Regions from separate parts of the Homo sapiens genome. Here regions 1, 2, 4, 5, 6 and 7 are each reported to be linked to region 3. The links are microRNA targets in miRTarBase. Many come from high-throughput screens and were not tested one by one. Region 3 holds a microRNA gene; each other region holds the end of a gene's coding sequence. Distances are from middle to middle.

Region 1 (4,071 bases), not on the chromosome of region 3:
TTTCCTGCCTCACTGCTTCTCACCCTATACCTCAATGACTGAACATCTAATGTTTCTCAGATGCCAAATGCACTCTCAGGTCTCTATGCCTCTACCCAAGCAAATCTGTTTTCCTGGAATCCTCTTCCTTCTTTTCTCCTCCTAGAGAAATTCTCAGACTTCATGTCCCAGTCACCTCTTCTGTGAAGCCTTTTCTGATTGGCCCCAGGACTGTCACCTCCTCTAAGTTTCCACAGTACCTTGTGCCCATCTCTCTAGCATAACCTTTATCAATTCATGTTGTAAGTTTTCAGTTACATGTCTGCTGATCTCATTGAGGAAGTGAAATTCATCTTTTCACTTTTCCTTCCCTCTTCTCCCCCTCCAAGTGCTTAACAGGGTCTAGAGCACAGTACATCCTCAATAAATGCCCAGTGGTAGAAACAAAGGCTGCCAAAGGCGTGGCCTCTGCCTCCATGTCAATTCAGTCTTCACTGGAGCAGAGATGAAACCAAGGAGCCCCAGGAGGCCTTACCTTCCCAATCATTGGGAGTAGAGGTTGATGGAGGATAAATTTGGTCATGGGATCCCACGTCTCTGTCTGCCAACTCCCTCCCTCGTTTTCCTTGCAGAAAGTCCAGGTAGTGGTCACCGTGCTGGACTATGACAAGCTGGGCAAGAACGAAGCCATAGGCAAGATCTTCGTGGGCAGCAATGCCACGGGCACAGAGCTGCGGCACTGGTCCGACATGCTGGCCAACCCCCGGAGGCCCATCGCCCAGTGGCACTCGCTCAAGCCTGAGGAGGAGGTGGATGCACTCCTGGGCAAGAACAAGTAGACAGCAGCGGCTGGGACCCCACACCTTTCACGGACACTGACAAGATCCAGAGCTATCAATACCTCAGTTATGCAACCTTAGAGGTTTTCTTTTTTCTTTCATTTGTTGGGTGGTTGTGTCCTTGTTTTTCCTTGTTTTTCTCTTTTTAAAGACCAACTTCCCTTTGATGGCTGTGTGAGGAGAGTCCCCTAAGAGGTGAAAGAGAAGCCTGGCTCTGTTCACGGTCCCAGGAGCTGTCCTTGCTGCATGCCCTGTCACAGTTCCCTCGACTCTTTCAAAGCTTCACATCTGCCTCACCCCAAGCGAGGCTCTCTACTGGCACAAACTTGCAGCAGTTCCTGTTTTTTGAGCCTTCTGGACCAACAAAATGGCAGCACATCCTGCTTCCTGACAGGGAAGGCATCACAGTGGCCAATGATCGTGTGTGTGTGTGTGTGTGTGTGTGTGTATGTGTGTGTGTGTGTGTGTGTGTGTGTGTGTGTGTGTGTCTTTGAGCATTTCTCTTCATTCCTGGAATGTGTGTGTGTGTGTGTCTCTTTGAGCATCTCTCTTCATTCCTGGAATGAGCCATGGACAGTAAAGTTGTGTGGGAAAAGAAGGCTCTTTGGGGACCCTGACATGAAGAAGTCCACTAAGTGGGAGATCTTCTCTCATCTATGGCAAAGTCTCAGGATCCTGTTCAGATATCGGGGCTTTCATACTCCTGTTGGTGGCTATTTGGGAGGCAGCAAGATGTGAAGACTGGATGTGTTCAGAACTAGGACCAAACGATGCCATCAAATACTTCCTCCTGCCAGTCATGGTTTCCCCAGAAGTGTAGTTCCTGGGACATTCATGGATATGAGCTATTCACTAGTTGGGTCAGACTAACAGGGACTCTCAGTCCCAAAATCTCACTCTTATTGACAATAAATATCAAACTATGAAGAAACAGAAGTCCCATTACCAGAAAGACCAAAATTAAACTCCTGGATCTTCACCCCATCCAGTGGGAAACACAGATGCTTTCTCCCTTTCCAGAATATAAGCAGCCAAGTTCATTTGCATTTATTCCCCATTGTGCTTTTGCTTCTGTTTCTCTTTTAAGTGGAGCAACACTGTCTGAAGACACGTTATCTGTGCAGAGCCAGAGAACTTTAAAAGGAAAGTTTAAATGTTCTTAGTTCTCCTGAGGTCCAGGTAAGAAGGGGGTGGTAAGAAGAGGATGGGGGACAGATGGCTGAGATCCCTTGGGAGGAGATATAGGGGAGCACTGGAATTCCCCCGACTCCCACTCCTTGCTCCCTTGGCCCTCTGCCCTCCATGCTGGAGAGCTGATAGGTAGCTGGAGTGGCCCAGGGAGACCTATGGGAAGGACCCGTCCTACCATTAGGGGGCTTCTCTCTATGAATGCTAAGAAACAAAGGGCATCCATTCCAAATGAGTAGCAGAGGTGACCTTCTAGGGTTTCTACCCATGCTCAGTTGTATCCCATTCCCTGTTCACCTTTTGTCCCCAGCACTGATATAAAAGCCATATATATGTTAGTCAGGTTTGCACTGAGTCTTCTTCCAATCCTTCAGCCTGGACAACAGAGTGAGGTCCCCTTGTGGCCAGAGGCCAGCCCTCCTTGCCTGCCTTCCTTTGACCTCTCTTTTCCATCCATGAAGCCCTCAGGCCCTTGCCATTTTTTCACCACAGAAAACTCATGGCTTCTCCAGAAGCCTGAGTATCTCTCTTTCCCAGCACAAATGGCAGCATCTCTATCCTGCCCCATCTGGGCCACTTCAGCTTCCTGTAGACACCCAAGACAGATGGACAGTGTTGGAGGGAATCAGGCTTTGAGGATCCAGTGTGAAGAAGTTGCAGAGTGTCTTTTTATTTTATTTTAAAAAGGGGGAAGGGGCTTTTGGTTTTGCTTTGTTTTTTGGATGAAGGAGTGAGGGAAATGAGGGAATACCCCCACCAGAAACAGACTGGAAAGCCTGCCTGTCTCTTGGAGATCCTTCTTTGTCTTGTTAGTGGTACATGGGAAGTTATGTTTTTACTGGTGTGTGTGTGTGTGTGTGTGTGTGTACTTAATGATGGGAAGGTAAGACTCTGATCAGGATTATGAACTGCGGTCCTTGGGACCAAAGGTGTGGTCATGGTAGAGAGTTGTAGGACAATAGGGTGTTTTCAGAATCTGGGTGGCCACAGAGTGGGATTTCCTGGTATGGACATCAGAAGTCACTGGACTCTTCTCCCAACCCCAGAGTTATGGGATTTTGGTGCTTTCTCAGGGTCTCTCCCCAGACTCACTCTTCTCACCCATATCCCACAGACTCACTCATGGAGACCCCCTTGTCAATATCCCCTCTACCTTTACTCCTTTGCCCTTTCCCAATTCATCTTCTACCACCTGGATTCTTTTCCATTCATGAACTTCATTCAGCCCTTCCAAAGCCCAAGATTTGCATTCCCTTGACAGGGAGGAAAGGCAATGGTAGGAACCTCTGGTGGTCTGGGTGTCTATGTGCCTGGTGACCAGGGCTGGATTTTTATTACTCTGAGCCCACTGCTAGTGAGGAGCCTTGAGGGGTGGGGACAGGTTGCTGAGTGATTTTGAACGTTGACACCAGTGTGGAGCCAGTGTGGGTGTGGGGAGCAGTGCCTTCCTCAGGTCCCAGCTGGTCCTGATATGCCACGTAGTGGATGGCATCTGTCTTGGTCCATGGGCTTGGTGGGAACATGCTTCTGCTTGTGTGTTTTCCATACCTGAGGGCTGACGTAGCTTAAACCACAGGGCATCATGCCAAACACTCACTGCTGGGCAGGTTTATTTCTGGGGATGTCAGGGTACTGGGGTGTAGGCACTAAGCAGGATAGAGTTAGGGTGTCTGGCTAGTAAGGGGTTCTGGACGCCTCTGGGGCTGTGAGTTTTCATCTCAAAGTCTGTTCCAGAGAAAGGAAAGTAGTATAGAGGTGATTTTTAGAGAAGCTGAGACCATGAAAACAAGCCTAATCCCATCCAGAAACTGGGGTAAAGTCTGAAAGTTCGTTTTCTTCTTCCTCCCTGAATAATTGTTCCAGAAGGGATGCTAACTCTGCCAGAGCTACAGGCAGATTTTTGGGCTTTGGAAGTGGAAGCTGAGGCCTGGGGAAGGCTGGGTAAGGAATGCTGGGGCAATCTCAGACAGTAGGCAGGTGCTTGGCATGAATGAGAAGTGACTTTCCTGGAGTCCCTCAGTAGAGGATGAGATAGCAGGGATTAGGCCACAGTCTCAGATCCTGA
Region 2 (4,076 bases), not on the chromosome of region 3:
TCCTGAGTAGCTGGGATTACAGGCATGCGCCACCACACCCGACTAGTTTTGTATTTTTAGTAGAGACAGGGTTTCTCCATGTTAGTCAGGCTGGTCTCAAACTCCCGACCTCAGGTGATCCACCTGCCTCGGCCTCCCAAGGTGCTGGGATTACAGCCATGAGCCACCATGCCCGGCCGACCTCACCTTTTTATGGCACATCCTGTGAACCAGCATTATCCCATTCAATCCGCACAGTAACTTGGTGAGGTGGCTGCTGTTCCAATCCCCATTTTACAGATGAGGAAACTAAGGTCCAGAGGTAGAGGCCTTCTCCAGGGCCTCTGCTTCCTGAGTCAATCTGTGATGGAGATGCCCCCAGAGAAGCCTCCAGGGGCTGGAATTGTACCCTAAGACTGGACACAGAAGGAGGCTCATGAGATTTTTCTTTCTGCTCTTTCAGAAATGGCTGAGCGACACAACACCAAGCAAGTCCTGAAGCTGGCGCGGGACCTCGTGTACAAGGTGCAGACTCTGATTGAGAACAAGTGAGGGGCACCTCACCCCGGCAGCCTCAGCCAAGCTGCCCCTGCCCCGCTCCTCTGCTTACTTTTCCTCCTGGCTGGATGGGCACCCCGGGAGCGGGGTCCTGGTGTCTGTTCACAAGCGTGGAGTTCAGTGCGCAAAGAAACTACCCTGACTTTTACTTCTGGGCAGATGGGGTGGAGGGAGTACCCCTTCAATTCAGCCTTACATTTTCCTGTTTGACCAAAGATTGCCCAAGTCTGGCGTTCCTCCCTTGCAGGAGGTGGAGGTTGTTGGTGGAGGAGGAGCCATCTTTGTTTGCTGGTGCCCGGAATGGTCTCCTCTTCTTCTTTCCCTATCCCTCCAAACTGTCTTGTAAGATGAGACCTGGGGAGGAAACTTCTTTTTGGAAATTGGTGTAGAAGAGGTGTGTGGGGCTACCTCTATGCTCCTCTGCAAGGGGCCTTTGGCGATGTTCTGGACATGGCTGAAGATTGACTTAGAGATTGACCCTCCACCTCGACATTACTGACATTTGGGGCCAGGTGATTCTTTTTGAGGGGACTGTCCCCTGCATTGTAGGATGCTGAGCAGCATCCCGGGCCTCACCAGATGCCAGTAGTGCCATCCCCCAACCATACCCCTGGTTGTGACAGCCCCCAAAAATGTCTCTAGACATTGCGAAATGTTCCCTGCAGGGCAAAATTGCCCCCATTTGAGAACCACTGGCTTGGAGAAGGGACTACAAATGTACTTCCTCCCCCATTCTTTTGACGCTAAGCCACCCTGGTCCTGACGCCTCCCCTCACTTAGAAAAGGCATACAGGAGGCCGGGCATGGTGGCTCACACCTGTAATCCCAGCACTTTGGGAGGCTAAGGTGGGCGGATCACAAGGTCAGGAGTTTTGAGACCAGCCTGGCCAACATGGTGAAACCCCATCTCTACTAAAAATACAAAAATTAGCTGGGTGTGGTGGCGGGTGCCTGTAATCCCAGCTACTTGGGAGGCTGAGGCAGGAGAATCACTTGAACCTGGGAGGTGGAGGTTGCAGTGAGTTGAGATCACGCCACTGCACTCCAGCCCGGGCGACAGTTCAAGACTCCATCTCAAAAAAAAAAAGAAAAGGCACACAAGAGTCCCTCACACATCTCTCTTGGAGTCTGGGATTCCATCTGTTGTATTTTCTCCTTTTTTCTCCTCTGTCTGATGCCAGAAGATACTTGTTTTCTTCTTTTCAAGAAAAGTATCTCCCCACATAGGCGGTGGACCCAAAAAGTGTAGGCATGAGACGGTCAGAGCTCTTTGGGGTCCTGCTCAGAGTCCCCCAGGCAGGGCAGAGTCTGTATCCTGCTGCCATCTTGCAAGGGAAAACCGCCTCTCCTTCCAAGTATTGGGTCTTGGAAAGGTGTGTGTTTGGTGAAAGCCACTTAATGGTGGTGGGGTGCAGCTTTTCTCTAAGTGCAGTTACTCACTCAGGACAAAGGAGGAAAAGGAAGGCAGAGGTCAGCCAGGGTAGAGGGTGATGTCTGTTTTCCTTGGGAAACATCTGCTGATGAACTGGGTCCAGGGCCGTGCTAGGTCTGGGAACAATCCTCTCCAGGTCTTCACACAGAGTATCACCAATCCACAAACAGACCCGAAGTGAACTAGTTTACTCTGCCTACCTGTCCTTTCAATAGAGCAGTCTTTCCCGCTCTTCTGTTCTGAGAATGCACCCGGAATGGGGGAAACCCAGCAAGCAGCAGAGAGAAAGGCTCTTCCCGGGAGACCTGCCGCCTCTAGGGTGGTCAGAGAATAGCAGCTGGGATTTTGGAGAGGGAGAGGATAGGTAAAGCAGCGTATTGAAGCATTTGCGGAGGGGTGTATTAGTCCTCCCACCCTGAGCACACCAGGACGGGGATGCATCCTTGCCTTGTGTGCTTGTAAAGGCTTCTTTCCCTTGGTATAGCAACTTCAACTGCACCTGAACCTCCAACCTCTGCCCAGCCTCTGGTGCAGGGTGGATAGAGGTCTAGCCAGCCCTTACTTCCTGAAGAGAGCTCTGTGGGAAACTCGAGGCTACAGTAGCTTCCCGGCTCCCAGCTCCTACCCTACCCCCACCAAAGCAGAAACGGGAGACGGCAACGTTCTGGCTGCCATTAGACTTACGTCTCCCTCCCCTACGTCCCCTAGCTTCCCAAGACAGGAAGAAATGTGCAAAAGGCCCCTCCGGAGAAAACTATTTTGCCGTTCAGCTGTTCTTTACAGAGGATGTTATTTTAGTGAGACCCAGGTCCTAGACCTTCTGATTCCTATTTATTTTTTTAACAGACTAGTCTCAAAGTACAGCACAAAATCTCTTCTCTGCCTTCTCTTGTGATGTTCCAGAGAGCATCTGTGGTTGTGATTTGGAATAAGTCATATTTATTTGGTTTACTGTGCCTATTCAGATCTCTGTATGTTGTGTGTGTTTCTGTGTCCTGGAATTGGATGCGTGGGACTCGTTCTGTCCGCGGAGTGCACTCTTTTTTTCAGTGTGGCCCACATATCTTGTAAATGTTTGCTGAAGAGTTGTGTCTATATATAGAGAAAATATATATAAACAGAGAAATATGTGAATCTGTTTTTTTTTGTCTTTTTTTTTTTAATTTGAAAGAAAAAAATGCTTGCTTCTGAGGACTGTGTCCTCCCACTCACACCCCAGTGACCCTATATGGGGTCAGATTTTTGTAATAGCTGCCTGGCCTTTTCCCAGAAAAGGTGAATCACTTCTGACTTCTTGTATTAGCTGGCTCTTACCACAAGTAATGCTGCATTACAAATGACCCAAAAAGTAGTGGTTTAAAACAGCCATGTATTTACCTCATAATTCTGTGGGTCAGCATCCCAGGCTAGGTTCAGCTAGGAGGTTCTTCTGTTCTCAGACTTCTTCATGTGTCTGTGGTCAGCTGATGTCCAGATAGGCAACTCTGCTTCTGATGGTTGTCTGGCTGTTGACTAGGGCAGTGGGGGAAACTGGATTCCGTATCTTGCATCCTCCAGCAGGCTAGCTTAGGCTTGTTTACATGGCTATGATAGCAGATCCCAGAAGGTAAGCAGAAACACACACTGTCTCTTGGTCTCAGCTTCTCTGGCATAAAGTCATTTCTGCCACATTCTGTTGGTCAGAGTAAGTCACATGACTCAGCCCAGCTTCATAGGGTAGGGAAATAGACTGTACTTCCTGATGAGAATCTTTGGAAAGTGACACTGAAAAGGAGCATGGGCCAGGCACAGTGGCTTACCCCTGTAATCCCAGCACTTTGGGAGGCCAAAGCAGGAGGATCACTTGAGGCCAAGAGTTCAAGATCAGCCTGGGCAACATAATGAGACTCCGTCTCTCCAACAAAAACAAACAAACAAACAAAAAAAAAATTAAAATTAGCTGGATGTGGTAGCGTGTGTCTGTGGTCCCAGCTACTCAGGAGGCTGAAGTGGGAGGATTGCTTGAGCCCAGGAGATAGAGGCTGCAGTGAGACATGGTCATGCCACTGTGCCTCAGCCTGGGTGACAATGCAAAATCCTGTCTCAAAAAAAGAAAAGGAGCATGGAC
Region 3 (4,000 bases):
TTTTATGGTGACACAAATGTATATTTTGCTAACAGCAATTCCAGGCTCAGTATTGTGACCGCGGAGCCACAGGGGACCCCACGCACATTCCGTTGCCTTACCCGATGGCTTGTGACGCGGAGAGAACCGATTAAAACCGTTTGAGAAACTCCTCCCTTGTCTAGCCCTGTGTTCGCTGTGGACGCTGTAGAGGCAGGTTGGCCAGTCTGTACCTGGACTTCGAATAAATCTTCTGTATCCTCGCTCCGTTCCGCCTTCGTTGCTGGCTTCCTCTTTCTGTGCCGCGGGCGGCCCCGACTCCCGCCCGGGTGTCCGCCGAAGCGCCAGGTGGGGCCACGGGCGGGGTGGGCCCGGCCCTGAGAGTGGGGGTCCCTGCGTGGGGCGTGCGGGCCAGAGCGAATGACCAAGAGCCGGACCTCGGTTTCTGCCGCTTTATTGAGCATCCGCGCGGCCGCCCGCGCCCTCGGCCCGCCCCCCGCCCGCCCCCGGCCCCGCCGCGCTAGTCGGGGAAGCGGCGCGCCTGCATCTTGCGGAAGTAGCCCTCGGCCTCCGCCTCCGCCTCGCGCTCCGCCAGCCCCAGGCCGCCCGCGTGGCGCCGCAGCGTGGACTCCCGGCTGCCCGGGCCCAGCGCCCCATCGGCCGCGCCCAGCGGGGGCAGCCCCTCGCCCGTGGCCAGGTTGACGGTGGCCACGGCCCCGAACCGCGGCTCCTCCTGGTCCACGTCGCTGACCGACGAGCCGGGGGACACGCCCGGGGGCTTGGCCCCGCCGCGGAAGCCGCGCGCCAGGTCCCCCAGCTCGTAGCCGCCGTCGGCCTCCGCCTTGGCCCCGCCGCCCGCCGCCTTCCACTCCCAGGGCGCGCCGCCGGCCGACAGGTGCACCACGGGGTGGTGCGGCGCGTGCGCGTCGATGGTCACGATGCTGGCGGAGTCGCGGTCCGACGGCGACCGGTACTGCGAGGAGTCGGAGCTGGCGCTGGACGACGACGCCGTCTCGGCCGCCTTGGGGCCCGGCGCGCCCGGAGCCTTGGACATGGCGATGACCTGCAGCAGCCGCGGAGGGTTGGCCACTGCCGCCCCGCTCTTCTCGGCCATCATGAGCCACTTGGCGCGCACCCCGGCGCCGCTTTTGGGGGACAGGCCGGCCCCCGTCTGCGCGCCCTCCTCCGGGATGTGCACCAGCGGCGGCGGCCCCGCGCGCGGTGGGAGGATGACCCGAGGCCCCAGCCCCGGCCGCGCCTGCACGGTGGGGTAGAGCGAGGGCGGGGCCGGGCCCTCGTCCTCCTCCTCTTCCTCCTCCTCCTCTTCCTCTTCGTCCTCCTCCTCTTCCTCCTCCTCCGCCATGGGTTCGGCGGGCGCGCGCAGGTGCCCGGGGCTGGCGTCGTCGGGCAGCCCCAGGCCGCGGCCCTCCAGGCTCTTCTGCTTCCACTCGCTGATGAGCTGCTTGGAGCGCGAGGCGTCCAGCGGCACGTGGATGGTCATGTGGCGGCGCGCGGGGTCGTCCAGCGAGGGCGCGCTGGCCCTGGGCAGCGTGTGGCTGAAGGTCACCATGTTCTCCTTGGCCATGGGGCTGCGCGGGGCCAGCAGGTCCACGTCCACGCTGGCGCGCTTCAGGCTGCCCAGCGAGGTCTTCTCGCGGGCCACGGGCCGGGGCGCGCCCTCCAGCCGCCCTGGGGGCCCCAGCTCGTCGGTGCTCACCGACTTATTCTGCTGATAAACCGAGTCGTGGCCCCGCTGCGTCAGGGCCCGCAGCGCGTCCTTGGCGGGGGCCGGGGCCGCGGGCTTCTCTGCAGGTGGGGCCTGGAAGTTGCCCACCGCGTGGCAGGCCTGTCGGGGAGAGGGGTCTGGGGGTGAGGCCTGGGGCTCAGAGGGCTCCTCCCCTGTGATCGTTGGACTTGCCGCGGGGGGCTCTGGACCGGGGGTGGGGGCTGGCAAGCTCTTGTCCAGTGGGACCGGTTCCCACCCCAAGGTTGCTGACCCAGCACATCGGGCAGGTCTGAGCCCACGGGATTCTGACTCCAGCATTCCAAGGGCGAGACACTTCAGCACCCATGCCTTCCCCCTAAGACCCCTTCGGGACCCACGTCTATCCCCTCAGACACCCTGGGCACCCGTGCCTCCCCCCTAGAGCCCCTGGGCACCCATGCCTCCCCCCTCAGACCCTCTGGGCCAGCCCCCCGCCAGAACCCCTGGGAACCATGCCTCACCCCTCAGGCTACCAGCCTCCCCTGTCAGACCCCCTGAGCCTGCCTCCCACCTCAGACCCCTGGGCCAGCCTCCCCACTCAGGCCCTGTGGGCACTCATGCCTCCCCCCTCAGATCCCCTGGGAACCCATGCCGACCCCCATCAGAACCTGCCACTCACCAGGTAGGCAGCGATGCCCGCCCCGATGAGGAAGCCGGCATACACGTCCACAGGGTGGCTGCGGTACTGCGTGATCTGCGTGAGCCCGCATACGCCCGCGGCGATGGCAAAGGCGAAGACCAGGATGGGCTTCAGCAGCTTGGTGGTGTCCGAGATGACCGAGTTGAAGTACATCTGGGGCATGGGGGTTGGGGTCAGGGAGGGCTCCCCACGGGTCAGCAAGAGGGCCTGGGAAGGGCAGTGAGGGGCCGGACTCACCGACACATAGACCGCGGCGAAGGCTGACAGCGTGGCGTGCTGGGACGGGAAGGTCTTCCTGTAAGAGGCGTCCAGCGTGAGCCCCGCCCACCTGGGGACCCCAGCTCCAGTGGCCTCTCTGTGTCTCTGTTTCCCCGCATGTTCACCGGGGCGGAAGAAGGCTCCCAGTCAGGGGAGTTGGGGGTCCGGCTCACCGTGCAGACAGGATGGCGTGGATGTCGTGGCCGGAGCAGATGTCCTGCGTGATGTAGGGGTTGACCTCGCAGGACGTGCCCAGGAGAGTGTAGTTGGGCTTGCAGACGGTGAGGAAGAAGGGAGTGTGGTAACCCGTGGCCAGCTGGATCACGTCCGTCACCAGGGCTGTGGCACACAGGCCGAACACGTGGACACCTGCAGGGCGGAAGGCTCGGCCAGGCGGGGAGCTGGGGACCCGGGACAGCCCCACCCCCTGCATGTGGAGGTAGCTCAGGGTCGGGGCGCGTCCCGCAACTCACCCACAAACCGCACCGTACGCCGCAGGAAGGAGTTGAAGTTGCAGCCGCCGGCGTTGATGCTGCCCTCCGCCCCGGCGGGCCCCCCGGCACGGCCCCACAGCCGGGACTGCAGACAGTACAACATGCCCTCGGCCACCATGATCTGCCAACAGGGAGGGGGCGCTCAGGCCTCGGTGCCCACAGGGAGGGGGCGCTCAGGCGGGCTCCCATCTGCAGTGCCCACAGGCTGGCACAGGCCCCGGTGTGGATGTTCACCGAGGTGGCGGGGGTGGGCTCCCAGCCGTGGTGCCCACAGGCTGGCACAGGCCCCGGTGTGGATGTTCACCGAGGTGGCAGTGGCTGCGGTGCCCACAGGCTGGCACAGGCCCCGGTGTGGATGTTCACCGACAGGCCCCAGTGTGGATGTTCACCGAGGTGGCGGGGGTGGGCTCCCAGCCGTGGTGCCCACAGGCTGGCACAGGCCCCGGTGCAGGTGCTCACCGAGGCGGCAGGGGCCGCGAAGGCCAAGCTGAGCAGCATCAGCAGCGGGATGAGCTCCTCGTTGGTCTCCACGTAGGGCATGGAGAGAGTGCGGTCATAGCACTGGAAGCCCACCTTGGCCGGCTTGAAGAGGTCGGTCAGCTCCAGGAAGTACAAGGATACGATGGAAGAAGCCACTATGGGCAGCTGTGGGGACAAGGTGGGCCAGGTTCACCCTGCTCTCCCTCGCGGAGGCGTCTGTCCAGCCCTCCATGAATTCAGGGCCATCCACCGTCTCACTCACCTATCCACAGATCCAACCCGCTCCCAGCCACTCTTTCCCCCATGAGTTATTCATCCATCCACAGATGCTCCATCTGTAACTCGACCATCTACACATCACACACCCACTCACTCATCCTCCAT
Region 4 (4,076 bases), not on the chromosome of region 3:
TATATTAATTCTGTATGGCTTTCATTATTTCATCCTTACATCAAGCATTGGCTTATTCAGCTTTATTTATATTAATGATTTACATTTTTATTCTTTATGATTTTGAAAAAATTCTTGGTAATAAATTGTAAGCATCTACTATTAATACTAGTCTTTTTTTTCCTCCAGTGAAGCATAACTTTAACCTGGAAGAATACAGCCTTTCTCAGTGCACACTGGAGAAGGTAAGTCAAGTGGTTTGACTTTGTATCATCTGGTAAATTTCACATGAAAGCAACATGCATTTTCCTGTTCATTTGGAAGACCAACAACTTGATAATCTCTCTTCCTTCTTTCCTTCTTCTTTGTCTCCTAATTAGGTATTCTTAGAGCTTTCTAAAGAACAGGAAGTAGGAAATTTTGATGAAGAAATTGATACAACAATGAGATGGAAACTCCTCCCTCATTCAGATGAACCTTAAAACCTCAAACCTAGTAATTTTTTGTTGATCTCCTATAAACTCATGTTTTATGTAATAATTAATAGTATGTTTAATTTTAAAGATCATTTAAAATTAACATCAGGTATATTTTGTAAATTTAGTTAACAAATACATAAATTTTAAAATTATTCTTCCTCTCAAACATAGGGGTGATAGCAAACCTGTGATAAAGGCAATACAAAATATTAGTAAAGTCACCCAAAGAGTCAGGCACTGGGTATTGTGGAAATAAAACTATATAAACTTAGAATTTTTTAAAAATATGACTTTTTTACCTTTTACAAAACATTCTCTTGCTGAAATATGTGAAGGGTATATTCAGTAGCCAAGAGTTGCATGACTACTTCACACCAGTTCATGATACAACAGGTATACAGGTTTTCTTTTATAACCAACTACAACTCAAGAGTCTTCTGAAAGTGTTCCAGAAATTGCTTTAAAACTCAAAAGTAAGGGGCCAGGTGCAGTGGCTCACGCCTGTAATCCCAGCACTTTGGGAGGCCGAGGCAGGTGGATCACAAGGTCAGGAGTTCGAGACTAGCCTGGCCAATATGGTGAAACTCCATCTCTAATAAAAATACAAAAATTAGCCGGGCGTTGGCATTTGCCTGTAGTCCTAGCTATTCGGGAGGCTGAGGGAGGAGAATTGCTTGAACCCGGGAGGCAGAGGTTGCAGTGAGCCATGTGCTAGTGCACTCCAGCCTGGGTGACAGAGTGAGACTCTGTCAAAAAAAAAAAAAACAACAAAAACAAAACCAAAAAACCTCACAAGTATTAGGAGGTCCTTGGACACACAAGTAGACAAGCACTCATGTTGAAAAGTAGTTCCATTATACCTTTTGAAAATAAAGGGAGTCACAGTAGTATTTGTTCAGATTTTTTAAATTTTGCATACTCTTAACAACATTAACTTATTGTTTTCAGGGGGTGCTAATTTTCCTTGTCATCTTTGAATAGTTTTATGGGATTTGATATTTTTTAAAATCATTTCTCCCTTATATAAGTGTATGTGCATGTAGGTGTATCTATATATTTTCCACATATCTTTTATATTATTTAATTTTTAAAATACCTGTCAGTTTAACATATTACTTTATTCTTTCCCTTAAAAATAGCTATTTCATTCTGAATATCACCAAAAAAAAAAATTCAAAGACCAAGCAGTATTCCTTCTGTGATTTTTTGGTGTTCACATATTGTACATAATAAGGGGTTCAATTCAACAAGAGGAGTTAACTATCCTAAATATATATGCACCCAACATTGGAGCACCCAGATTCTTAAAACAATGATTTCTAGATGTATGAAAAGACTTAGAGAGCCAAACAATGGTAGTAGGAAACTTCAACACCCCATTGACAGTGTTAAATTGACCACTGAGGTAGAAAACTAACAAGAAATTTTGGACTTCAATTTGACACTTGACCAATTGGACCTAACAGGCATCTATAGAACACTTCACTGATCAGCACAGAATATACATTCTTCTCATCTGCACACAGAACATACTCCAAGATTGGCCACATGCTCAGACATAAAGCAAGTCTCAATACATTTTAAAAAGTTGAAATCATACCAACCATACTCTCAGACCACAGAAGAATAAAAATAGCAATACCAAGAAGATCTCCCCAAATCATGGAATTACATGGAAATTTAAAAACTTTCTCCTGAATGACTTTTGGGTATGATGAAATTAAGGCAGAAATTAAAAAAAATTTTTTGAAATAAATGAAAACAGAGATACAACATACCAAAATCTCTGGAATACAGCAAAAGCAGTGGTAAGAGGGAAGTTTATAGCACTAAATACCTACTTCGAAAAGTTAGAAAGATGTAAAATTAACACTCTAACATAACACCTGGTGGAACTAGAAGAACAAGAACAAAATCCCAAAACTAGCAGAAGAAAAGAAATAACTAAAATCAGTGCAGAACTAACAAAATTGAGGCCCAAAAATCCACATGAAGAATAAGTGAAACCAAAAATTGGTTTTTTGAACAGATAAACAAGATCGATAGACAACTAGCTAGACTAAAAAAGAAAAAAAAGAGAGAAAATCCAAATAAGCACAATCAGAAATGACAAAGGCGACATTACAACTGATCCCACAGAAATACAAAAGATCCTCTGAGACTATTATGAACACCTCTATGCACACAAACTAGAAAATCTAGAAGAAATGGATAAATTCCTGGAAACACGCAATCTCCCAAGATCCAACCAGGAAGAAATTGAAACCCTAGCAGACCAATACCAAGTTCCAGAATTGAACCAGTAATGAAAAATCTACCAACCAAGAAAAGACCCAGACCAGATGGATTCACAACTGAATTCTATCAGACTTACAAAAAAGAGCTGAGCAATTTTACTGAAACTATTCTAAAAATTCACAGATGAGGGACTACTCCGTAACTCATTTTATGAAGCCAGCATCACCCTAATACCAGAACCTGGCAAAGACACAACAAAGAAAACTACAGAACAATATCCCTGGTGAATATAGATACAAATATCCTCAGCAAAATGTAAGCAAACTGAATTTAACAGCACATCAGAATTTAGTTTACCATGATCAACTTGCCTTAACTCCTGGGATACAAGGTTGGTTCAACATACACAAATCAATAAATGTGATTTACCACATAAAGAGAATTAAAAATAAAACCATATGAGTATATCACTAGATGTGGGAAAAGCCTATGATTAAATCCAACATCCCTTCATGATAAAAACCCTCAACAAAATAGGCATTGAAGGAACTTACCTAAAAATAATAGGAAACATCAATGACAAACCCATAGCCAACATTATACTGAATGGGCAAAAGATGGAACCATTCCCCTTGAAAACTGCAACAAGACAAGGATGCTCACTTTCACCACTCCTATTCAACATAGTACTGAATTTCTTGCCAGAGCAATGATGCAAGAAAAGGAAATAGAAAGTATCCAAATAGATGGCCACACAAAAAATAAATTCCTAGGAATACATCTAACTTATCTAACCAAGGAGGTGAAAGATCTCTGTAAGAAGAATTACAAAACACTGCTGAAAGAAATCATAGATGACACAGAAAAATATGACATGCTTATGGATTGAAATAATATAGTTAAAATGGCCATACTCCCCAAAGCAATCTACAGATTTGACACTATTTCTACCAAACTATTAATGTCATTTTTCATGGAATTAGAAAAAATATTTTAAAATTTATATTAAAAAGCCTGAATGGCCGAAACAACCATAAGCAAAAAGAACAAAGCTGGAGGCATCACATTACTTGACTTCAAACTATACTATAAGGCTACAGTAACCAAAACAGCATGATACTTGTACAAAAAAGGCATATAGACCAATGGAACAGAATAGAGAACACAGAAATAAAGCCACACACCAATAGCCATCTGTTCTTTGACAAACAGACAAAATAAGCAATCGGGAAAGGACTCCGTATTTAATAAATGGTCCTAGGATAGTTAGCTAGCAATATGCAGAATAATCAAAGTGGACCCCCACCTTTCACCATATACAAAATTTAACTCAAGATGAATCAAAGATTTAAACATAAGACTTCAAACTGTAAGAATCCT
Region 5 (4,076 bases), 55 Mb from region 3:
TATATAGAATTTTCAGTGTTCGTGTAGGCTCATTGTATCCTTCCCTCCCTCCATTTTCCTGTAAATTGGTTTAAGCAAGGTTAGAAGCTCGAATAGATCAAGGTTCAAGTTTTTAAATTTTATTCAACCTGGGTTTGAATCCTAATTTCTGAGCTTCCCTTAGTTCACTTATTGTTGGGAGAACATGGCTGTTGGGGTGGTTCTGGGAGCGCCCACCATGGTGGCTCGTGTGGAGTAGACACTCAGCACGAGGGACCCCTCCCCCGCGGTGAGCTCGTCTAGGCCTCCCGCCTGCGCTCTATGGCTCTGCTGAGTTTCTGGCATGTCTCTATTCTTTCTCCCTCTCCATGCCTATGGTGTGTTTATGCTCTTGTTTTTTGATCCTGGAGAATATTTGGGTGAACTCCACCAAACCTGCTTACTAAGGGTCCCTTTCTGACACCTGTGGCGAAGCCCCCTCCTCCCTGTCCCTTCCTGCCTTCAGTGCTGGGGTTGGGTGGACGCTGACTGGCTGTTGGGCGTGAGCCTTGTTCACAAACCTGCCTCTCCTTTCCCCACAGATCTTTGTGGAGTTCACCTCTGTGTTTGACTGCCAGAAAGCCATGCAGGGCCTGACGGGCCGCAAGTTCGCCAACAGAGTGGTTGTCACAAAATACTGTGACCCCGACTCTTATCACCGCCGGGACTTCTGGTAGAGGCGGCTGGGGGAGGGTGGGGGCAGGGCTGGCTGGGGGCTTCTCCCCACTCCCGCCCCCCCCTTATCCCCCTCTGAAGACGATGGGCAGAGGAGTGACAGCCGCAGACACACGACAGCCGGCAGCAACTGGAATGGCAGCAATTAAGGGTGGGGGGCGGGGGTTGGGGGGTTGGGGGGTTAGGGCAGGGAGGGGACTGGGGAAGTGCGCACACAGCCCACACAGACAACACGCACCCACACAGACACAGAGGGAAGGGGTTGGGATGGGGACAGGGTGCACAGCAGGGCGGGGTAGGACCCCAGCCCCTCCCAAAACAGCCTCTCCTTCTCCCATAGACCCCTTTCTTCTCCCCTTCCCCACGGTAGGAACATAGCGTGTTTATATTTTATGGCCAAACTATTTTGAATTTTGTTGTCCGGCCCTCAGTGCCCTGCCCTCTCCCTTACCAGGACCACAGCTCTGTTCCTTCGGCCTCTGGTCCTCTCTGGTCCCCTCCTGGGTTTCTTACGTAGTTGATTTTTCCTCTTTAGTCTCCCCCGACCTGCGCCCAGCCCCGTGGCCCCTGCCCCTCTCCTACTCTCTGTGGCAGTTTCATATTTGCTAAGACGAATTTGCTCATTAAACATTTTGTTGTATTTTACTTTATGGAGCGGCTGTGTGTCCAGTATGTCCGACCCTCTTCCTCGGTTCTGGGCTCGGGTGGGGGTTCCCTTGGCAAACTGCGGGCCCCTGGCTGGGACGCCCCTGCTGCCGGCGCCGGCAGCCTCGAGGCCTTCCCTGCTTGCGCGGTGCCCTTCTCGGGGTCGGCACAGGCACAGCCCCGGGGGACGTGAGGTTCCCGAGTGCTCTCCCACCCCGCCGACAGGAGGGATGGTGGCCGAGCGGGCCGGGGCGGGCGTGGCGTGGGTGTGCCAGGAGCTCCGCGGTTGCCGCCAAGCGAGCTGGAGCTGACTCTCGGCGTTCCGTGAGCACCGCGCGGATCCCCCGCTGCAGCGGGCGGAAGTGACGTAGAGGCGCCTAGCAACGGGGCCCAGCGCGCCGGAAGTGATGCCTTCCAGGTTGGCTTGGCTGCGGAAGCGACTCCTGCCAGGGCGGGGTGCGGCACGGGAGGGCGGGGAGCGCGGCAATTTCCGCTTCCGGTCCGTCGCCTCCTTCTGTTGCTTCCCGTCTCCTCGGCGGCTCCCCTCCCCCGCCCGGCTCTCCGCGCCCCTTCTGGGCGGCGGGGCGGCGGAGCCGTCGGCGTGCGGCCCTCCTTGCGTTCGTGCGTGCGCCCGTGGCCCGGCGCACGTCCCGCGACACCGAGGCCGAGCGGGGCAGGGGGCTGACCGCCATGACCCCCCAGAGCCCGGCGTGAGGGGGCCGAGGTGAGCGCGGGGCGGAGCGCGGGGGACGCTGGCCCGCCTGCTCCGGGTGTTCGGGCCTGGGCCGCGGCGCGCGCGGGCTCGCGTCTGGCCAGTTCTGGGTGTCTCTGGCGGCCTTTGTGTCTCTGCTCCTGTGTCGGCCTTGACTGCCCCCGTGTCGGTTGTCTGTGTCTGTCTCTCTCGTGTCTGTGTGTCTGTCAGCGTCTGTTTCCTGTGGGCCTCTGCCTGTGCCTGTTTCAGTGAACTTAGAAAAGGGTTTGGAGATAGGAGTGTGTTTGTGTGTCTGTCCCGGGTCTCTCTCTCCTCTGTCTGTCGTGTCTGTGTCTGTCAGGATTTGTTCGTGTCTCGTTGAGTTTCCGAGTCTTCTTTTCCCTAGGTGTCTCTAGCCCTTCCCTGCGGGCTTTTCTGCCTATGGTGCAAATCTTACCCCCGCCCCGTCTTCGCATCTGAGTTTTGCCCCCATACCTATCACCTCCAATCCTGAAGTTTCTTTCCAGGAGTCTGTTAACTTGATCTAGAATCTGCCCCTTTTCCCCAGTTTTCTGAGTCTCTGGTGTGATGGTGAAGAGCCCCAGCCTTGGATTCAGAAGCCCGGCTGCCTGCTAAGCTGTGTAATTGCCAGGTGATAGTCTCTGTGTCAAAACCTCAGTTTCCTAGTCGTAGGAAATCCATAGTTCGTAGGCATTCGTAGTTCCTACATCATAGGGTCCTTGTGCATGTAAGTTGAGGTGATGCTTGTAAAGTGCCTGACGGTATCTGACACATAGCAAGTGTGTAATTACTGGGAGCTCTGGTTTTTATTATTACAGTGCTTAGAGATTTTTACACAGTAAGTGTTAGATATCGGTCGGTTATTGGAGTACTCCTTGGAGAACTTTGCCATATCCTTTGTATTCTTTTTAATGTAAGAATTCTCTTTGAATCAATTTAATTTGAAATACAGTCTCATTCTAAGCAGTATCTGAGAAATCTCAGCTTTGATGTGCTAGTTGGGTAATTTTTTCTAATGCACGCCAAATAAGTACAGAGTATTAAGATAGTGCCTTTTCTGCCGCCACCCTTTTGGAAATGTTCTCTGTTTTTTCTCTGATAATAATAGCAGCCAGTGTTATTGAGCGCCTACTATCTGTGGGGCACAGAGCCAAGCACTGCATGTACCCATCTTATTTAATCAACAGGCCTACCAGGTAGGAATTCTTTCATTTCAGAGTTGAGCAAACTGTGTCTCAAGGAGGTGTGCGCTGCAGGTAGCTGATGTGGCCAGGATTTGAACCCACATTTTATATTCTTTGCCATTAGATTCCATTTTTCTTATCTCTTATTTCTCAGCGCCAGGTCTCTTTTTGTTTCTGGGCCTCTTTCTTCCTTGGCCTCCTGCCTCCCTGTCTTCCCATGTTCTTGTATCTGCTGCTGCCTGTGTTTTTCTCATTGTGTCTCTGCCTAGCTCCCTCTGCCCAGGTTTCTATGTGTCTCTTTCTGTCAGAACTGTCTTCTATTTCTTCTCAGTCCCCTTCTCTGCATTTGTTACATCATCTCTTCATCTTAATGTATTAGGCTGGGGCTGTTTTGGGACTCCAGAGAGTTACTTTTTAACTAGCTACATCTGTCTTCAGGTGCCTGGCTTTCTGGCCTGAGGTGGAAGCAGAGGCCAGCCTCTCTCCGTCATCCCTATCTCCCCTGGGCTTACATCATGGCGGGGCTTTGAAAATCTCCCTCTGTGGCTTCTTGGAGCCGCATAGATGGGTGATCAGAGCTGGCTCTGGAACCAGGCTGCTCCAGGAGTAAGGTGTGTGTCCCTGGGCAAGGGGCTGAACCTCTGTGTCTCAGTTTCCACCCTGTGAGGTGGCTATGAATCATGGGGTTGTTTCAAGGATTAACTGAGTTAATACATGTAAAGCACTTAAAACAGTGCCTGGCATGGGATAAGAGCAGTGCGAGTGTCTGCTGGTGTCATCATCATTTGCTTGACTCTCTTGTTTCTCGTCACCAGTCTCGGGATGGGTTAATTTAATTTAGG
Region 6 (4,068 bases), not on the chromosome of region 3:
AACATATTCAACTTTAATTCCTGTCTTATTGTTAATGGGAAGTTAGTTATGGTTCTACTTAAATGTTGTAGAGAAAATAAGTATTACTAGTTTCTTCTCATAAAAATACTCCCTGGATACGTACACTGAACAACACAAAAAACGTAATGGCCACTTAAGAATATTTATTTATTTATTTATTTTTTTGAGACAGAGTCTCACTCTGTTGCCCAGGCTGGAGTGCAGTGGCACGATCTCAGCTCACCACATCCTCCGCCTCCCAGGTTCAAGCGATTCTCCTGCCTCAGCCTCCCAAGTAGCTGGGATTACAGGTGCCCGCCACCACGCATGGCTAATTTTTGTATTTTTAGTAGAGGCGAGGTTTCACCATGTTGGCCAGGCTGGTCTTGAACTCCTGACCTCAGGTGATCCACCCATCTTGGCCTCCCAAAGTGCTGGGATTATAGGTGTGAGCCACCACGCCCAGCCAAGAATATTTACTAAAGGAAGCTTTGACCCCTGCATCACATTTTTTTCATATTTCCCTTTCTGTAATCTCAGCACTTTGGGAGGCTGAGGTGGGTAGGTCAAGAGGTCAGGAGTTCGAGACCAGCCTGACCAACATGGCAAAACCCCGTCTCTACTAAAAATACAAAAATTAGCCGGGCGTGGTGGTGCGTGACTGTAATCCCAGCTACTTAGGAGGCTGAGGCAGGAGAATCGCTTGAACCTGGGAGGCAGAGGTTGCAGTGAGCTGAGATAGTGCCACTGCACTCCAGTCTGGAAAACAGAGTGAGACTCTGTCTCAAAAAAAAAGGTATTGATGAATAAAAATTATAACTAGAATAAGTACTCTAACAATTCAGATTTATAATTGAGTTGTCTGAAAGCTACCTTTTTCATTGTGAAAGTGCATATTAATGTGAAGAAAATATTCCTATTTGAGAACTTCAAATATGCATACACAAAGATGTTCCAGCTATTTTTATCTTCTTAAGTATGCATTCTACATGAGAACGTTTGGGTTGGTAGTAAAATAAATAGTAATATCAAAATAGTTTATTATGTTTAAATTTCATTCTTTTGGAATACATAATTTTGAGTGATCATGTCTCCAACTACAGTTATTCAGGCACAAATTTTGGAGGTACAAAGAATAAATAATATTCTTAAGGTAGTTTTTCCTTTTATCAGGGTTCTTCTAGAGTACTGGTCTCATTATTTTCTAAAGCAGTTTTTCTAAGGTGATAAACCGAACACATTACTTGCTATGTATTAAATGACTTGTACCACTAAATAATCAAATTCTAAGCTCTAACAGCTTAATTCTAAAATCATTGTCTGGTATATTTGTGTTTTCAATTACTTTGTGTCTTTCACAGCTGCCAAACCCAGAAAGGTATGTTATGGTTATAGTTTATCTTCTATTTTTCCCTCTTGAACTACTCCCAAAGGAGGAAGAAGGATGCTCATTATATACTGCCTCATTTCTTTTTAAATTACCACTATAGTGCCGTAGAGTTATACCACTGCTTCTCATACTTATGTGCACATTAGTCACCTTGGGATCTAGCTAAAATACAGATTCATTCAGTAGGTTTGGGGAGAGGCCTGAGAGTCTGAATTTTTAATAAGCTGCCAGGTGGTGGTGACAATGATTTGTGGACTACCCTGTGAATAGTAACTCGGCCTTAAGAGAACATTAACCAAAACCTTAAGCTGAGCAAACTACTGAGCAGCAAGTATTGACAACATTTCAAGGTTTTGTTTTTTGTTTTGTTTTGTTTTGAGATGGAGTCTCACTCGGGCTGGAGTGCAGTGGTGTGATCTCGGCTCACTGCAACCTCCGCCTCCCGGGTTCGAGTGATTCTCCTGCCTCAGCTTCCCAAGTAGCTGGGACTACAGGTGTGTGCCACCACGCCCAGCTAGTTTTTTGTATTTTTCAATAGAGATGGGGTTTCACCGTGTTAGCCAGGATGGTCTTGATCTCCTGACCTTATGATCCTCCCGCCTTGGCCTCTCAAAGTGCTAGGATTACAGGCATGAGACACCGCGCCCGGTCCATTTCAAGTTCTAAAAAAAGTTCAACGTATTTCTTTAAAAATCATGCAAAACAGCCCTCTTGTATAAACTAGAGTGGGGAAAAAAGAACTTGAAATTGCACTTTTATTTTAAAACAGTGAAGTGTGGCTATTACATATTTCACTTTTACAATCAATACATGTTAGGATCTTACAAGTATTAAATTGATGATTTTATTATATATAAATACACAAATGGTCCAAAACAATATCTAAAATGTTGCAATATTTATAAAATCCATAAAAATATTTAATTTTCAGTATGAAAATGGCATACTAATTTGAGTTTGAGGTAAATGAAGAGACAGATTTAGGCCATCTAAGAAGGAAGATAAAGGAGAATGTCATATCTATATTTTGGGAAAAGTCAAAGAATGCTAAAGAGCTTGACCTGTTACTGCATTAATGACTTCAGACATTATGCAGATACATATACTATATAGTAATAAATAATACACAATGTAGACAGAACAGAAAGCAGAGGGACTGGACCAATCTGCTCAAGGAAAAGGTAAAGAATTTTTTAAAGTGCAGCAATCAGGGATTCTTGTGACTAATGTGTTTCACTGAAGACAATTTGAATCGTTCATAAACATTAACCCTTTAATCCTTGAAACTTTCCTTTGAGGTAGAGAATTGGGCCAGACTACTGCTGAAAAGCAAGAGGAATGGCAAGGCTAAAGTAGCTCTTGAGAGCTCAAAAGAATCATGGAATTCTTTTTTTTTTTTTTTTTTTTTTTGAGACAGAGTCTCACCCTGTTGCCCAGGGTGGAATGAACTGGCACAATCTCAGCTCATAGCAACCTCCACTTGCTGAGTTCAAGCGATTCTCATGCCTCAGCCTCCTGAGTAGCTAGGATTACAGGCATGCGCCACCAGGTCCAGCTAATTTTTTTTTGTATTTTTAGTAGAGACAGGGTTTCACCATGTTGGCCAGGCTGGTCTCCAACTCCTGGCCTCAAGTGATCCTCCTGCATCACCCTCCCAAAGTGGTGGGATTACAGGCATGAGCCACCATGCCTGGCCAAGATTCATGGAATTTTTGAACTCCTTGTCTTAACTACTCTGCCAGCTCTTGTTGAACAAAGACCAATCCGCTCTTCATGATTTGCTCCTCATGTCTTCTTATAATTCTAATGTGTCTACATCCTTGGATACCATATAATAGGAAAATTCTTTTAAACAACTAAAACAGACATAATCACAATTCCAACTTAATGTAATCCAATACAACTTCATACAAATAGCAGTTAAATCACACGTAGTAAAATTTCGTACAACATTTTTTTAAAGTTTCAAATTCAAATGTTCCAAATGTTTAATTATTTTGTCTTAAGGTACATTTGCAAAGAATTCTAACTGCTGCTATTACCTTTGTCCTTGCTGAAGGAAAACATTAGGAGAATGAGCTGTTTTTAAGCTAAACGTGTCTCCACTTGATGAATGGCGTGAAGGAGCTTTTCCACCCAAGAGTGATGTTTCTGCTTCTTTTATTTCCATTGCCCTTTTGTATAATTCAGCAGCTTTTTCAAAATCTCCTCCTTCATAGCTTTGAGAGAGAAAACAAAAACTCTTAAAATGAGAATATAACCTCTTACCAATTCAAAATGACCTTATGGGATACAGAAAAAGAAGCTGTAAATATTTGCCCATTTCCCCTCTTTTTCCAGTGTATTCACTCAAGCAGACCAGTAAAACAACACCCAAACTCTTCTCCTTTCTACCAGTATCAGTATTTTTGTGTCTCATATGGATATCATTAAAACCATGTTGTAATAGAGGCAGTGAAATTGCTAAGCAAAGTTAGGTATTCTCTGCATCCTGAGAAAAATACAAATGAGCAAGCAAAAGTCAACATATACTTAATGGCAACTTCACTCTGGGGACAGCAAATTACCCATATTACTCCCAGAGCCAGATGTAGTATAAACCATCCTTCACTGTTTGCCATGATGCATACATATGCTCCTCTGCAAAATAGATCATGCAGGCTTCATTTCATTTCTGG
Region 7 (4,076 bases), not on the chromosome of region 3:
TCTGTTAACTGGTTTGTGTAAGTCTAGCTCGTTAAGAGACTAATTCACACTAGAGTTGGCTTGAAACATGGGAGCTTCAAGTGTGGTTTCCCCCGGAAAGATGATTTTGATCAAGCACAGGTAATCAGGACTGTCCTCAGGACTTTATGTGGAACTGACATCGCTTACCTACTCCCGTCTAGAAAATGCTGAACAGGGCCAGGTGCGGTGGCTCACGCCTATAATCCCAGCACTTTGGGAGGCCGTGGCGGGCGGATCATCTGAGGTCGGGAGTTCAAGACCAGCCTGACCAACATGGAGAAATCCTGTCGCTACTAAAAATACAAAATTAGCGTGGTGGCACATGCTTGTAATCCCAGCTACCCGGGAGGCTGAGGCAGGAGAATCTCTTGAATCCAGGAGGCAGAGGTTGCGGTGAGCCGAGATCATGCCATTGCCCTCCAGCCTGGGCAGCAAGAACAAAACTCCTTCTCAAAAAAAAAAAAAAAAAAAAAGAACATGCTGAACTGTGATACATTTTGTTGACTCTTCTTTTTGTGGATGTCATGAAACTTCCTGACTCCACTCAAATCTATTTGCCTACAAACTATAAAGCCAGGCGCCGTGGCTCAGGCTGGTAATCCCAGCACTTTGGGAGGCCCAGGTGGGAGACAGCTTGAGCCCAGGAGTTCAAGACCAGCCTGAGCAACACAGGGAGACCCTGTCTCTACAATAAACAAATCAATAAGCTGGGTATGGTGGCGCATGCCTGTGGTCCTAGCTACTCATGAGCCTTAGGTGGGAGGAACCCTTGAGCCCAGGAAATTGAGGCTACACAGCCTTCATCCTGCCACTGCACTCCAGCCTGGGTGACAGAGGGAGTCCCTGTTGGGGGAGGGGAGAGCCAAAATTATAAACACAGATTTAAGTGGCCCATCTCGCCATTGTTCCCCATCTGATGAACCCACTGCTTCCAAATATATGTAACAGAGGCTGGGCACGGTAGCTCACGCCTGTAATCCCAGCACTTTGGGAGGCTGAGGCGGGCGGATCATGAGGTCAGGAGATCAGGACCATCCTGGCTAACACGGTGAAACCCTGTCTCTACTAAAAATACAAAAAAAAAAAAAAAATTAGCTGGGCATGGTGGCGGGTGACTGTAGTCCCAGCTACTCAGGAGGCTGAGGTAGGAGAATGGCATGAACCCGGGAGGCAGAGATTACAGTGAGCCAAGACCACGCCACTGCACTCCAGCCTGGGCCACAGCGAGACTCCGTCTCAAACAAACAAACAAACAAAACATGTAATAGAAGCATCACACACACAAAAAAACCTGACAGGGCCGGGTGCAGTGGCTCACGCCTGTAATCCCAGCATTTTGGGAGGCCGAGGCAGGTGGATCACAAAGTCAGGAGTTCGAGACCAGCCTGACCAACATGGTGAAACCCCATCTCTACTAAAAATACAAAAACTAGCCGGGCATGGTGGGACATGCCTACAAATCCCAGCTACTCAGGAGGCCAAGGCAGGAGAATTGCTTGAACCCGGGAGACAGACGTTGCAGTGAGCCAAGATCATGCCACTGCAGTCCAGCCTGGGTGACAGAGCCAGACTCCATCTCAGAAAAAAAAAAAGCCTGACAAACCAGTCTAAGAGGGGCTCAAGTCAACATGCATATGACTCATAGATACGCAGACATTTTGGAGGCCCAGACTTGCGAGTTATCTCAAGGGGAAGCAGTCTTGGGGGCTGAGCCCTCAACTTGTGGAATCAAAGCTATCTCCAGGTAACTGATTGTCAGAATTGAATTGGAGGGCCAGGTGAGGTGGCTCATGCCTATAATCCCAGCACTTTGGGAAGTCGAGGTGGGCAGATTACTTGAGGTCAGGAGTTCGACACCAGCCTGGGCAACATGGCATAAACCCTGTCTCTACTAAAAATACAAAAATTAGCTGGGTGTGGTGGCACATGCCTGTAGTCCCAGCTACTCGGGAGGGTGAGGCAGGAGAATCGCTGGAACCCAGAAGGCAGAGGTTGCAGTGAGCAGATTGTGCCACTGCACTTCAGCCTGGGCGACAGACTGAGACACTGTCTTAAAAAAAAAAAAAAATTGGAGGACACCTAGCTGGTATCCACTGCAGAATTGCTTGCTTGCTTGCTTGCTGGTGGGGAGAAATCCCCGCATATTTAAAGTTGGAGAACTTTTTTTGAGACAGGGTCTTGCTGTCACCCAGGCTGGAGTACAGTGGTGCGATCATGGCTCACTGCAGCCTTGATCTCACAGGGTGAAGCAATCCTCCTGCCTCAGCCTCCCGACTACAGGCGTGTGCCATCACACCTGGCTATTTTTGGTAGAGACGAGGTTTCACCATGTTGCCCAGTCTTGGAGAACACTTTAAAATGTTACTGCCCAGAACAAAGGGGAGGTAGAAGAGTCTAACCTGCTCATCTTTAGAGCCTTCTTCAGAAAGAAACCCACTCCTCTCTGGGTCTTCATCTGTTTTAAGATTTTGTTTTTTAAGGAGGTCTCGCTATGTTGCCCAGGATAGTCTCAAACTCCTGGGCTCAAGCATCCTCTTGCCTTGGCTTCCCAAGTAGCTAATTACAGGCACATCTGGCTATTTAACTTCAAATGACTCCTCCAATCAGTAGGCAGGATTTATAGTGACAAAGAGAAAAGCATCTAACCAGGGAGAACACTGAAACCATCTCAAAAAGAAGACACAGTACACAGTGTTTCAAAATGTGGATATTGTTTACTTGAAGCAACAGTCCAGGATTGTGAAGTACAACACATTTTAAGGATGAGACTTTCCTTTCATGGTCAAGCACCAGCATCATGCACACAGCATCAGGTTATTTAAAACAACACGCCTGTGGGACCCCGTTCCTGGAGGAAGACCCGCTTCAGTGTGATTGCCTCCCTTGCTTCACTGCTTTTAGTTCCAGGCAGTTTCATTGTACATCCAAGCCTTCCTCTGCGTGAGAGCAAAGGCTTTGCTCATCAGCCAGCCAGTCTTGTTACTATCTGGCTACTTTTTAAGGTTAAAAAATAAAAGGCAGTTTCTTTGCTTTGCAGGCGGCAAGGCAGGAGGCGCAGGCCTCTTCATTGTTCACATGTCACAGGAGGAGGCTCTGAGCAAAGGCCACTGGCAAGTTAGGGCAACACCAAGAAGGCTCTGCGGAGAGACTCCCTGTGGGTTGGGGCCTGGCAGGAACGGTGCCTGTGGACTGTTTATGGTCTGTCCAGTTGAGGCTTGGTAAACCCAAGTAAAGTGTTAAAAACCTCAGTACAAAAGATCCTCTAACACATCTGGAACCAAATTATTTCTTCTTAAAAACACAGTACTAAGTGTCACAAAGCTTTCCCTCCAATCTACTACTAGAAAACACTCATGCCATGGCCCACAGACCCAAGAGTCAAGGACAGAGAGAAACCTGTTCTTCAAAAGAAAAAAAAAAAAGACAGCAGTACATAAAGTGCTTCTTTTTAATGAAACAAATCCAAGAGATGTACAGTCAGGCTCAAGTTGTGCAGTTCACAAGCATGGAGGAAACAGACAGAACGACAGCGTTCAGGACAGTCAGAGCTAACCCAAGACGAGGCTGGACTTGCCGCCAGGGGGATTTCTTCTGGATGGCACTGGGGCCGGGGCCACCGGGCTGGGCACAGGCGCAGCAGGCACGGGCTTCTCTTCACTCTGCCCCAGGCTGCCTGGCAAGTCTGTGTCCACATTTTCTATGAAAACAGGGAATAGAAATAATACTCATAATGACAGCCATTTCCTGTTAAGATCAAGGATCTGTTTCTCTTTTTCTTTTTTTTTTGGTTTGATGGTTGGAAACATACCTAAAAGCATAAACAAAATAATCACCCACCATGCTCCCACTCCACAGAATTAACCATTGTTCATCTTTTCCCATATTTGTTGTTTATGTTCTTTTCTAAATTACACAAATATATAAGGACATGAAGTTTTTTTTTGTTTTGTTTTGTTTTTTGACGGAGTCTCGCTGTTGCCCAGGCTGGAGTGCAATGGTGCAGTCTTGGCTCACTGCAACCTCCACTTCCCAGGTTCAAGCAATTCTCCTGCCTC

What was found. The annotated mature microRNA hsa-miR-3187-3p reads UUGGCCAUGGGGCUGCGCGG and lies in region 3 at 1,557-1,576, shown strand. An mRNA with a match to its seed (bases 2 to 7 or 8) in the 3' UTR can be bound and repressed. Matches are read on the target gene's strand: a 7mer-m8 pairs with bases 2 to 8, a 7mer-A1 pairs with bases 2 to 7 and ends in A, and an 8mer does both.
Region 1: the mRNA of SYT2 is a reported target of hsa-miR-3187-3p. Seed matches in the 3' UTR shown: 7mer-A1 at 1,227-1,233.
Region 2: miRTarBase lists SGSM1 as a target of hsa-miR-3187-3p. Seed matches in the 3' UTR shown: 7mer-A1 at 1,422-1,428.
Region 4: the mRNA of ABCA6 is a reported target of hsa-miR-3187-3p. The part of its 3' UTR that is shown has no 7-base or 8-base seed match.
Region 5: the mRNA of U2AF2 is a reported target of hsa-miR-3187-3p. Seed matches in the 3' UTR shown: 8mer at 1,086-1,093.
Region 6: miRTarBase lists NPHP3 as a target of hsa-miR-3187-3p. Seed matches in the 3' UTR shown: 7mer-A1 at 2,990-2,996.
Region 7: the mRNA of JPT1 is a reported target of hsa-miR-3187-3p. The part of its 3' UTR that is shown has no 7-base or 8-base seed match.

What each region holds. Positions count from the first base shown.
Region 1 is chr1:202,593,504-202,597,574 of GRCh38, reverse strand. SYT2 (synaptotagmin 2) reads left to right here. Exons shown (of 9, transcript NM_177402.5): 9 at 612-4,071. The coding sequence ends at 818. Among named protein-coding and RNA genes, the nearest start is that of SYT2, 110 kb to the left of the region's middle.
Region 2 is chr22:24,923,744-24,927,819 of GRCh38, forward strand. It overlaps SGSM1 (small G protein signaling modulator 1), which reads left to right. Exons shown (of 25, transcript NM_001098497.3): 25 at 443-3,835. The coding sequence ends at 531. Among named protein-coding and RNA genes, the nearest start is that of LHFPL7, 21 kb to the right of the region's middle.
Region 3 is chr19:812,071-816,070 of GRCh38, forward strand. MIR3187 (microRNA 3187) reads left to right here and starts at 1,514; the gene lies at 1,514-1,583. PTBP1 (polypyrimidine tract binding protein 1) reads left to right here. Exons shown (of 15, transcript NM_002819.5): 15 at 1-242. PLPPR3 (phospholipid phosphatase related 3) reads right to left here. Exons shown (of 8, transcript NM_001270366.2): 3 at 3,596-3,781; 4 at 3,116-3,257; 5 at 2,816-3,011; 6 at 2,622-2,679; 7 at 2,364-2,537; 8 at 418-1,825. The coding sequence ends at 500.
Region 4 is chr17:69,075,358-69,079,433 of GRCh38, reverse strand. ABCA6 (ATP binding cassette subfamily A member 6) reads left to right here. Exons shown (of 39, transcript NM_080284.3): 38 at 169-224; 39 at 360-732. The coding sequence ends at 461. It also overlaps a transcript of ABCA9 not described here. Among named protein-coding and RNA genes, the nearest start is that of ABCA9, 16 kb to the right of the region's middle.
Region 5 is chr19:55,673,374-55,677,449 of GRCh38, forward strand. It overlaps U2AF2 (U2 small nuclear RNA auxiliary factor 2), which reads left to right. Exons shown (of 12, transcript NM_007279.3): 12 at 561-1,343. The coding sequence ends at 695. EPN1 (epsin 1) reads left to right here and starts at 1,853. Exons shown (of 11, transcript NM_001130072.2): 1 at 1,853-2,062. RefSeq lists silencers at 1,415-1,634, 1,805-2,134.
Region 6 is chr3:132,678,482-132,682,549 of GRCh38, forward strand. It overlaps NPHP3 (nephrocystin 3), which reads right to left. Exons shown (of 27, transcript NM_153240.5): 27 at 2,128-3,609. The coding sequence ends at 3,429. UBA5 (ubiquitin like modifier activating enzyme 5) reads left to right here. Exons shown (of 12, transcript NM_024818.6): 12 at 1-1,313. NPHP3-ACAD11 (NPHP3-ACAD11 readthrough (NMD candidate)) reads right to left here. Exons shown (of 45, transcript NR_037804.1): 26 at 3,433-3,609. Among named protein-coding and RNA genes, the nearest start is that of UBA5, 20 kb to the left of the region's middle.
Region 7 is chr17:75,132,533-75,136,608 of GRCh38, forward strand. JPT1 (Jupiter microtubule associated homolog 1) reads right to left here. Exons shown (of 5, transcript NM_016185.4): 5 at 2,716-3,718. The coding sequence ends at 3,570. It overlaps LOC107985034 (a long non-coding RNA gene), which reads left to right and starts at 3,718. Exons shown (of 2, transcript XR_007065907.1): 1 at 3,718-4,076.